Linked DNA regions of Homo sapiens. The protein of the gene in region 1 purifies or fractionates together with the protein of each later gene. This does not show direct contact. Each region holds a gene or a part of one and is shown on either strand. Other genes may lie near its edges. The genes, in order: GLMN, ANKLE2 and TMEM143.

Region 1 (3,653 bases):
TAGGGGAAAAAATATGCCTTAATAATATTTAAGTAATAGTAATACTAGAGATAGAGCAATAACTCACATTAATGTATTCTACATATGAATAAATATACCCTACGAAATAAATTGGTAATTGACACTTTGGCTATGTTCTTACCTTTAATGACATGTCAATTTGATTTTTGATATTTTGAATAATAAAAGCCTCCACACCTGAGTGATTACTTGTATTCAATAAGCACCTTGAAAGCAAAATTACAATAGATGTGAAATTATCCTGGACAGCATTAGAATTAAATGGTGATAAAAGTTTTACAAATTCAAAGAGGCCATGTGTTACTTCTAGGAATAAAAACCCCACAGTAATGGTAATTAGCAAGGTCATCAACCAATTACAAAGTCACCTGTAATAGTTATTGCTCTCACTAAATGGTAAATTCTTATTTATTTTATTTTACTTTTTTAGACAGAGTCTCGCCCTGTCGCCCAGGCTGGAGTGCAGTGGCACAATTTTGGCTCACTGCAACCTCCGCCTCCCGGGTTCAAGCGATTCTCCTGCCTCAGCCTCCTGAGTAGCTGTGATTACAGGCGCCCGCCACCGTGCCTGGCTAATTTTTTGTATTTGTAGTAGAAACAGGGTTTCACCATGTTGGCCAGGCTTGTCTCAAACTCCTGACCTCGTGATCCGCCTGCCTCAGCCTCCCAAAGTGCTGGGATTACAGGCATGAGCCACCACACCCGGCCGGTAAATACTTATTTATAACTGGATCTTCCAACAAGCCATTTCTATCAAACCAAAATTTGAATATTTTTATGAACATAGTTACAATAATTTAACATGGCAAGAAAGGGCACTAACATAATGGTCTAAAAAATCCCCAAATTATTTCCTGTGAAAGTAGTCCAGTGCTAGAGTAGCTTAATTGCAAAAAAAAAAAAAAAACTAGATATGACTAGCTTAAGAAAAAAAGGGGATTTATTGGTAGAGATACACATAGAACAGAACAGGAAAGCCGGTATAATACCTAAGAATTGAGATTTCATAAACTTGCTCTTACTATCAATAGAAAACAAGAAAAGATAGAATCAAGAGTGTTGGCTGGGCATGATGGCTCATGCGTGTCATCTCAACACTTTGGGAGGCTGAGGTGGGTGAATCGCTTGAGCCCAGGAGTTTGAGACCAGCCTGGGCAACATGGCAAAACCCCATCTCCACAAAAAAATTAGCTGGGCATGATGGCATGCACCTGTAGTCCCAGCTACCTGGGAGGCTGAAGCGGGAGGATCACCTGAAGCTGGGGGGCCAAGGGTGAAGGCTGCAGTGAGCCATGATCACACTGCTGCACCCGCCAAAAAAGAACAGTACTAATATTGGCCAATCCCAGGTAAGACATTTTAGCAAATCCAGCCTGATGCCCAATTTTATCAATAAAGTTTTACTGGAACACACCCATCCCCAATACAAAGTCAAAGTTGAGCACTTGCAACAGAGACTGTATAGCCCATAAAACCTATATTTACTATTTGGCTCTTCACAGAAAATTAATTAGAAAGTTTACCAATCTTTAACTTAGAGAGTTGCTAGAATCTTATCCACCTCAAAGAGCAGTATTAGTAAGCTCTTACTATTAACATAGTGCATAGCCTATCAAAGTTGTAATTCCAGAGCCATCAATTTGAACTGTGAGTAATGGAGATTAGTGACATACATAAAGTTCCAGCAGGAGCATCATCAATCTCAGTTTAATTATTTTTAAGTCTATTTCAAATTTAGAGTATTCCAATTGATTGAACTGCAATATATACTATTAGTCATACAAAATATAGACATATATATAGTATGTCTGAAATATTTGATTAACCCTTTCTCTAGCCATCACTGAGAATTTATAATATGGGTTCCAACCAGAGTTGAATTACATGTAAAACATACCGACATACTATGCCCTAAAACAATTACATGGCATTAACATGACTTTTAATCAACCACACACTTAGCAATTAGCCATGCTTGATACATACCTAAATAATGTATATTTGCCTTGTGAATCCAACTTGTTAATATACAGCTGAAGCATAGCTAAACTCTTTTTCCTCTAAAATGGAACAAACAATATTATTATATAAAATGAATAAAGCTTACCCAGACTTCATCACTATCCATTTTATGCATGTAATACATCCACACTTGTACCTCCTAAATAAAAATTTCACAAATTAAAATTTTTAAAAAGAAAATTAAATTATTTGTCAAATTTTCTCACTGTAACTCATTATTCTTTAGTCACCAAATATTTACATACCAGTGTCTCAATGGGGCAAAGTGTCATTACTTTCACTAAGCCCTGGAAATAAAAAAATGTAAAATTCAGATGTAAACAGATTATACTGACTGCAAACAAACAACTATAATACATCAATAGGATACTAAAAATTCAGAGAAGTGAGGGTAGGAGATTTAAAAGTGAAGTAAATTAATTTTTCCCTAAGCCTTCCATTCCAGAAAGCTAACTACAATTGATTTTTTAAGTGATATTGAGTAGAGTGTCACACAGTGTACTTTTAAAAGCAAACGATAATTTTCAATTATGTCTACAGTGGCAAGAAAATGAAATCAAATCTACAGAAATATAATTTATTAATTAAAAACAATCAAACAATATGTTAACAAAAACCATGTTTTTCTATTTAAATATTAGGAAAACCAGTTCCCACACTGAAATCTAAGGATTTCCTTGGATATCATAACTAACAAAGAGGATTGGGCAAAATAAACCATAGGAGGGAAAAACACAATGTGTATTAGTCTTTCTGGTAATGAGTCAGTGGATGCCTTAGATGGAGTCCTGAGAACTTGAGTTATGAGAAACATAAAGAAGCTTCATTTTCCAAGATCCCTACAGAAATAAAGTGTTAAAAGAAGAAAGTTATGCTTTTCTACTGGATGCTGTGCTATCAATAATGGTGGCCTCTAATAGCTATTCGTGTTTAAATAAATTAAAATTTAAATTTGAAACTTAGTTCCGGCTGGGTGTGGTGGCTCACACCTGTAATCCCAGCACTTTGGGGGGCTGAGGCAGGCTGATCACGAAGTCAGGAGATCGAGACCATCCTGGCTAACACAGTGAAACTCCGTCTCTACTATAAATACAAAAATATTAGCTGGGTGTGGTGGCGGGCGCCTGTAGTCCCAGCTACTCGGGAGGCTGAGGCAGGAGAATGGAATGAACCCAGGAGGTGGAGCTTGCAGTGAGCTGAGATAGCACCACTGCACTCCAACCTGGGCGACACAGCAAGACTACACCTCAAAAAAAAAAAAAATAGTTCCTTAGTCACATTTCAAGTGTTCAGTTTGGCTAGTGGCTTTCATATTGTCAAAGTTCTACTGGACAGCATTACACCAGAGTTTTCAAAGGTTGCAGAGAAAAGAGTGGGAAAGGAATCAGAAAAGACCTTACTTTAAGTTCAGAACAGGCAAAGGGCTATTTTCAATATTAGAATACATATTTTATTTACCTGAGGTACAGTAAGAAAACTCTTGATTTCTAAGTACTGGTAAAGTAGACTATTGTCTTCTATTCTCAATAAACTATTCTCCAGCAGCTCCTACAGATTAAAATATATGCAGATACATATATAGTGAAGTCAACAGCTGTTATTTGTTGACA
Region 2 (3,653 bases), on another chromosome or scaffold:
TTTTAGTAGAGACGGGGTTTCACCATGTTGGCCAGGCTAGTCTTGAACTCCTGACCTTAGGTGACCTGCCCACCTCAGCCTCCCAAAGTGCTGGGATTACAGGCATGAGCCACTGTACCCGGCTGGGAATGCCTTTTTAAACATGCCAAGAAACCATTCAAAACAAGATAATCCTGATTATATAAAAATATTAAAGCTCTGTAGTGGAACTATCACAATTAAGTTTTGTATGAGACTATCGTAAATACATAAGATATACACTACTGGCCAGGAGACAAAAATTTATGAACAATGTAACAGACGAATGGTTACTGTCCACTACTGGATAAAAATAGCCATAGTTCGGGCACGGTGGCTCACGCCTGTAATCCCAGCACTTTGGGAGGCTGAGGCAGGTGGATCACCTGACGTTGAGAGTTTGAGACCAGCCTGACCAACGTGGAGAAACCCTGTCTCTACTAAAAATATAAAATTAGCCGGGCGTGGTGGCACACCCCTGTAGTACTAGCTACTCGGGAGGCTGCAGCAGGAAAATCACTGGAACCCAAAAGGCAGAGGTTGGAGTGAGCCAAGATCGCACCACTGCACTCCGGCCTGGCGACAGACCGGGACTCTGTCTCAAATAATAAGTAAATAAATAAATAAATAATAAAAATAAAAACTGCACCATGATCATTTCCCAGTGTTACTTTCTTTTTTTTGAGATGGAATCTAGCTCTGTCGCTCAGGCTGGAATGCAGTGGCACAATCTCAGCTCACTGCAACCTCAGCCTCCTAAGTAGCTGGGACTACAGGTGCCCACCACCACACCCCGCTAATTTTCTGTATTTTTAGTAAAGACGGGGCTTCACCGTGTTAGCCAGGATGGTCTCGATCTCCTGACCTCGTGATCTGCCTGCCTCGGCCTCCCAAAGTGCTGGGATTACAGGCGTGAGCCACCGCGCCCGGCCCCTACGTATTCTTTAAAAAGATCTTACAGAACAATATTCCATTCTATTCATAGTGTTTAACCAATTATGTACTCATAGGCGTCACCACAAATGGTATCACAGTAATAACAATACTCATAACAGTGTGCAATTTCTGGCATCCCAATTAATACTGAGTTCTCATTTCTTTTTTCCAATGCTAAATCTTCTTTAAAATTACAATTCTTGGGCTGGGCACAGTGGCTCACACCTGTAATCTCAGCACTTTGGGAGGCTCAGGTGGGAGGACTGCTTGAAGCCAGGAGTTCAAGACCAGACTAAGCAATAAAGCGAGACCCAGTCTCTTAAAAAAAAAAAAAAAAATTTAATTACCTAGGTGTGGCCAGGCGAGGTGGCTCACGCCTGTAATCCCAGCACTTCGGGAGGCTGAGCCTGGCAGATCACTTGAGCCCAGGAGTTGGGAGACCAGCCTGGGCAACATGGGGAAACATTGTCTCTACCAAGAATACAAAAAAACTGGCGCGTACTGGCACGTGCCCGTGATCCCAGCGATCCCAAGCTACTCCGGAGGCTGAGGTGGGAGGACTCCTTGAGCCTGGTAGGCAGACATTGCAGTGAGTTGTTGAGATTGCATCACTACACCCCAACCTGGGTGAGAGAGAGACCCCAGTCTCAAAAAAAAAAACCACCAAAAACAACCAATTAGCTAGGCGTGCTGGTGTGTGCCTGTAATCTTAGCACTTTGGGAGACCAAGGTGGGTGGATCGCTTGAGGGCAGTTCGAGAGAAGCGTGGGCAACGTGGCGAAACCCCGCCTCTATAAAAAATACAAAAATTGGCTGGGCGTGATGGCTCACACCTGTAATCCCAGAACTTTGGGAGGCCGAGGTGGGCAGATCACGACGTCAGGGGTTCGAGACCAGCTTGGCCAAAATCGCGAAACCTTGTCTCTACTAAAAATACAAAAAATAAAAAATTAGCTGGGTATGGTGGCGGGCGCCTGTAGTTCCCAGCTACTCAGGAGGCTGAGGTTACAGTGAGCTGAGATCGCACCACTGCACTCCAGCCCAGGTGACAGTGCGAGACTCTGTCTCAAAAAAACAAAACAAAACAAAACAAAAAAAAACCATAAAAATTAGCTGTGCGTGGTGGCGTATGCCTGTGGTCCCAGCTACTCAAGCGGCTGAGGTGGGAGGATCACCTGAGCCAGAAAGGTTGAGGCTGCAGTGAGCTGTGACTGCACCACTGCAATGCAGCCTAGGTGGCAGAGTAACACCCTGTTTCAGATGAATGAATAAATTAAAAAAATAAAATGGCCAGGCGCGGTGGCTCAAGCCTGTAATCTCAGCACTTTGGGAGGCCAAGGCAGGTGGATCATGAGGTCAGGAGTTCAAGACCAGCCTGGCCAAGATGGTGAAACCCCGTCTCTACTAAAAATACAAAAAATTAGCCAGGCGCGGTGGCAGGCGCCTGTAATCCCAGCTACTCAGGAGGCTGAGGCAGGAGAATCGCTTAAACTGGGAGGGGAGAGGTTGCAGTGAGCTGAGATCACGCCACTGCACTCTGGCCTGGGCAACAGAGTGAGACTTTGTCTCAAAAAATAAATAAATAAATAAAAACAAAATAAAACCACAAATCTTTGATGCTGAAAAGTATTTATACACTCATTGGCCATTTGCATTCATTAACATAAAAGATGTGCAGGTTACACTGCATTTTAAAAAGGCGGAGATGACTAATCAACAAAGTTCCTAACCAACAGCAGCAGCCAGTTAATATTAATATCTCAGTCCAGCATATCTCATAGAATCCAATTTACCTCACAAATTTTAACAGTTCTCATGTTAAATTCACAAATATTTCAGAAAAGTTCTACATAAAAATGTTAACAATGGTTAACTGGGGTGATGAGATGGAGGGGATTGGATTTTTTCCTTCTTAATCTGTAGTTTTCCATTTTCAGACGTCATCCCGCCCCTCCGCGTATGTGCTATCTGTGTGAGGAAATCCTACACACGGTCCCATTACCATTTCTCGCTGGGACGTCCTCATACACTGGACACACCCCATAGTACAGGGGCGGCTCCTTAGACGCAGTCGCTCCAGCTCTGTAGGTGTCGGTGTCACTAGGGGGCACCGAGCAGGTCTTGGATGTCACAGCTTCCTCCTCTGGAGGATTCAGGCCCACACTGTAACCAAAATCTCTGTCTTCAGAAAAACCAGCCTGATCAGTTGGGTTCCCTTCAGCTGGCTTCAAAATCCTTTGTGGGTCCTGGCTGAGAGCTGTGACACCTGCCTCATGGTGGTAGAAAGAAGACAGCCTTCCTCCTTGCTCCAGTAAAGCCTGAGCCAATTTTTTCTCAAAAATGAACCTTGTAGTTGATGTAATGGGTCCACATTTCAATCCGGCTTTGACGATTTCTTCTCTAAGGTCATCTGGATTCAGAAGTTTCAATCGAGCCAACAGAGCATCCATTGTCATTTCACCTAGGCCCAAGACAAAAAAATCAAAGAGTCACAAAATACTAACACCTGCTGAAGCTGGGTGATGGGTACTAGGGTTCATTATATAATGGCATCAGTTTCTGTTTCTTTCATTAAAAACTTTTTTTCTTGGCTGGACGCGGTGGCTCACGCCTGTAATCCCAGCATTTTGGGAGGCTGAGGCGGGCGGATCATCTGAGGTCAGGAGTTCGAGACCAGCCCGGCCAACATGGTGAAACCA
Region 3 (3,653 bases), on another chromosome or scaffold:
ATCGCCCAGCTGGAGTGCGGTGGCGCAATCTTGGCTCACTGCAAGCTCCGCCTCCCGGGTTCACGTCATTCTCCTGCCTCAGCCTCCCGAGTAGCTGGGACTACAGGCGCCCGCCACCACGCCCGGCTAATTTTTTTTTGTATTTTTAGTAGAGACAGGGTTTCACCGTGTTAGACAGGATGGTCTCGATCTCCTGACCTCATGCTCCGCCTGCCTTGTCCTCCCAAAGTGCTGGGATTACAGGCATGAGCCACCACGCCCGGCCTCAAGTCCATCTTTCTACCTGCCTTTCTAAAAGGCAGCTCAATGGATAAAGAAAATATGGTCTATATACACCATGGAATACTACTCAGCCATAAAAAGGAACAAAATAATGTCTCTTGCAGTAATTGGATGGAGTTGGAAGGCCATTATTCTAAGTCAAGTAACTCAGGAATGGAAAACCAAATAGCCGTATTCTCACTTTATAAGTGGAAGCTAAGTAAGCTATGAGGGTGCGAAGATACACAGAGTGATATAATGGAATTTGGGGACTCAGGGAGGGGGGTTGGGATGGGGGTGAGGGACTACATATTGGGTATAGTGTACACTGCTCTAGTGATGGGCACACCAAAATCTCAGAATGCACCACTACAGAATTCATCCATGTAACCAAAAAGCACATGTACCCCAAAAACTACTGAAATAAAAAATGTTTTAATTAAAAAAGAATGGGCCAGGCACGGTGGCTCACGTCTGTAATCCCAACACTTTGGGAGGCCAAGGCAGGTAGATCACGAGGTCGGGAGTTTAAGACCAGCCTGAGCAACATGGTGAAACCCCATCTCTACTAAAAATACAAAAATTAGCCAGGCGTACTGACACACGCCTGTAATCCTGGCTATTCGGGGGACTGAGGCACAAGAATCACTTCAACCCGGAAGACAGAGGTTGCAGTGAGCCAAGATCGCACCATTGCACTCTAGCCTGGGCAGCAGAGTGAGACTCTGTCTCAGAAAAAAAAAAAAATATATTAGAATAAATAAATTCATAAATAAATGGTAGCTCAAATTCTTAAGTCCAAAACTGAGCTCTCAGTCCTCCCTGCAGATCTTTCTCCCCATCCCACCACGGTCTCCCCCATCCCAGTAAATGGCAGCTCCATCCTCCAGGAGGCTCAGGCCAGAACTGCTGGAGACGCACCCCTACTCCTCTCTCTTCCTCCCCAGAACACCCCCACAGCCAGCACATCAGCAAAACGCTGATGCCTTCCAACATAACCAGCATCTGACCGTTTTTCACCATTTCCATCGCTATTACCCTTGTCGGAGCTTCCATTATCTCTCCCCTAGACAAATATAATAGACTCTTTCATAGATGTCCCTGCCTCTGATAGTCTGTTCCCTACACTGCAGCCAGAGAAATCCTGTTAACACCTAAATCCGCTGCTCACATCTCTCCTCAGCTCAGAGCCCTCCCATGGCTCCCGGCTCACTCAGAGTCAAAGCAAGGTCCTCGGCCTGGCACAGTGGCTCACGCCTGTAATCCCAACACTTTGGGAGGCCAAGGCGGGTGGATCACTTGAGGTCAGGAATTCAAGACCACCCTGGCCAACATGGTGAAACCCAGTCTCTACAAAAAGTACAAAAATTAGCAGGGGGAGGTCGTGGACGCCTGTGGTCCCAGCTACTCAGGAGGCTGAGGGAGGAGAATCGCTTGAACTGGGGAGGCGGAGGTTTGCTGTGAGCTGAGATCGCACCACTGCACTCCAGCCTGGGCAACAGAACAAAAACTCCATCTGAGAAACAAAAACAAACAAACAAAAAAACAAAGCAAGGTCCTCACAGTGGCCCACAAGGCCCAGTACGATCTGTCCCCATCCCCTCTGCCCTCATATCCCACCCTCCCCGCACATTCACTCTCCTGCAGCCACAGTGGCCTCCTCACTGTTCAATACTCCAGGCCTCCACTCACCTCAGGGCCTTTGCACTTGCTCTTCCATCTGCCAAGAACATCCTCCCCCAGGCATTCATCAGGCTCGTTCCCCCTCTTCACTAAGCCTTTAGCCCACATGTCACCTCCTTGGGGAGCCCTTCCCCACCCACCCCGTCTGAAACAGGCCCCATCTCACCCCTCTTTGTTTTTTTTTTTTTTTTGAGACAGAGTTTCCTCAGTCGCCCAGGCTGGAGTGCAGTGGCGCAATCTTGGCTCACTGCAAGCTCCGCCTCCCGGGTTCATGCCATTCTCCTGCCTCAGCCTCCCGAGTAGCTGGAACTACAGTCGCCCCCCACCACGCCCAGCTAATTTTTTTGTATTTTTAGTAGAGACGAGGTTTCACCGTGTTAGCCAGGATGGTCTCGATCTCCTGACCTTGTGATCCACCCGCCTCAGCCTCCCAAAGTGCTGGGATTACAGGCGTGAGCCACCGCGCCCGACCCATCTCATCCCTCTTTATCTCACTACTCCGCCTCATTGTTCATGGCACTTATCACCACCAGGCATCATATTTTATATTTATTTGATTCCTTGTCTCCCCACTTGGAATGTTGGCTCCATGAGGGCGTCACTTCACCTGTCATGTTCACTATTGAATCCCCAGCACTTAAAATAAGGGCCAGGCTCCAAGAAGGTGTCAGGGAATGTTTGCTAAATGAGCGGATGCTCGAACAAGCACCACAGGGCTGGAAGGGCCCCGTCCTCACCTGCAGCCGGGCCAGGATTTGGTGGTAGTGGAACAGGGTGCAGAAGTCCACGTGGGCCGAGAACGCCTCCAAAGCCGCCTTCTCTGCCGGACTCGAGTGGAATTCCTGTTACCTCAGGAAGCAAAACTTCTCTGTAGGCCTTTTCCCCTTCCCCGAGGGAAAGAATTCTTTCCCTGGCTGCCTAACTACACAATCAGAGCTCTGGACTTTGAAGTTTTGTTCTGGGGCTGGGCGCAGTGTCTCGCACCTGTAATCCCAGCACTTTGGGAGGCCGAGGCAGTGGATCACTTGAAGTCAGGAGTTCAAGACCAGCGTGGCCAACATGGTGAAATCCTGTCTCTACTAAAAATACAAAAATTAGCCGGGCGTGATGGCATGCACCTGTAGTCCCAGCTACTCAGGAGGCTGAAGCTGGAGAATTGCTTGAACCAGGGAGGCGGAGGCTGCAGTGAGTCGAGATCGTGCCACTGCCCTCCAGACTAGACAACATCAAGACTCTGTCTCAAAAAAAAAAAAAAAAAAAGTTTTGTTTTGGTTGGGTGGGGGCTGACCAATTTTACTGAAACTGAGGCAGCCAAATATAGTGAAAAACTATACTGGGCTTAAAAAGCTGGAGGTTCAAGTTTTTGCTTTGACATTTCCTAGCCAATACACACACACACAATTCCAGGAACGGTTTGACAGTGTAATATCATCCTCCAGAAGTAGATGGAATTATTATTATTATTATGTTGAGACAGAGTCTCGTTCTGTCACCCAGGCTGGAGCTCAGTTGTGCAATCTCAGCTCACTGCATCTTCAACCTCCTGGGATGAAGCGATCCTCCCACCTCAGCCTCCTGAGTAGCTAAGACTACAGGTGCCCACCACCATGCCTGGCGAATTTTTTTCAATTTTTTGTAAAGGTGGAGTCTCACTATATTGCCCAGGCTGGTCTGAACTCCTGTGCTCCAGCAATCCTCCCACCTCAGCC

The links.
Region 2: the proteins of GLMN (region 1) and ANKLE2 purify together in Homo sapiens (co-immunoprecipitation; 3 studies listed by BioGRID and IntAct, with this or other methods). This does not show direct contact.
Region 3: the proteins of GLMN (region 1) and TMEM143 purify together in Homo sapiens (affinity purification with mass spectrometry; 2 studies listed by BioGRID and IntAct, with this or other methods). This does not show direct contact.

Annotation. Positions count from the first base shown.
Region 1 is NC_000001.11:92,264,412-92,268,064, forward strand, and holds part of GLMN (glomulin), read right to left. Parts: intron 3,592-3,653; coding exon 3,502-3,591; intron 2,331-3,501; coding exon 2,289-2,330; intron 2,183-2,288; coding exon of another isoform or gene 2,129-2,182; intron 2,082-2,128; coding exon 2,008-2,081; intron 228-2,007; coding exon 143-227; intron 1-142.
Region 2 is NC_000012.12:132,751,719-132,755,371, forward strand, and holds part of ANKLE2 (ankyrin repeat and LEM domain-containing protein 2), read right to left. Parts: intron 3,416-3,653; coding exon 2,957-3,415; intron 1-2,956. UniProt on the Homo sapiens protein: Involved in mitotic nuclear envelope reassembly by promoting dephosphorylation of BAF/BANF1 during mitotic exit.
Region 3 is NC_000019.10:48,357,391-48,361,043, forward strand, and holds part of TMEM143 (transmembrane protein 143), read right to left. Parts: intron 2,787-3,653; coding exon 2,682-2,786; intron 1-2,681.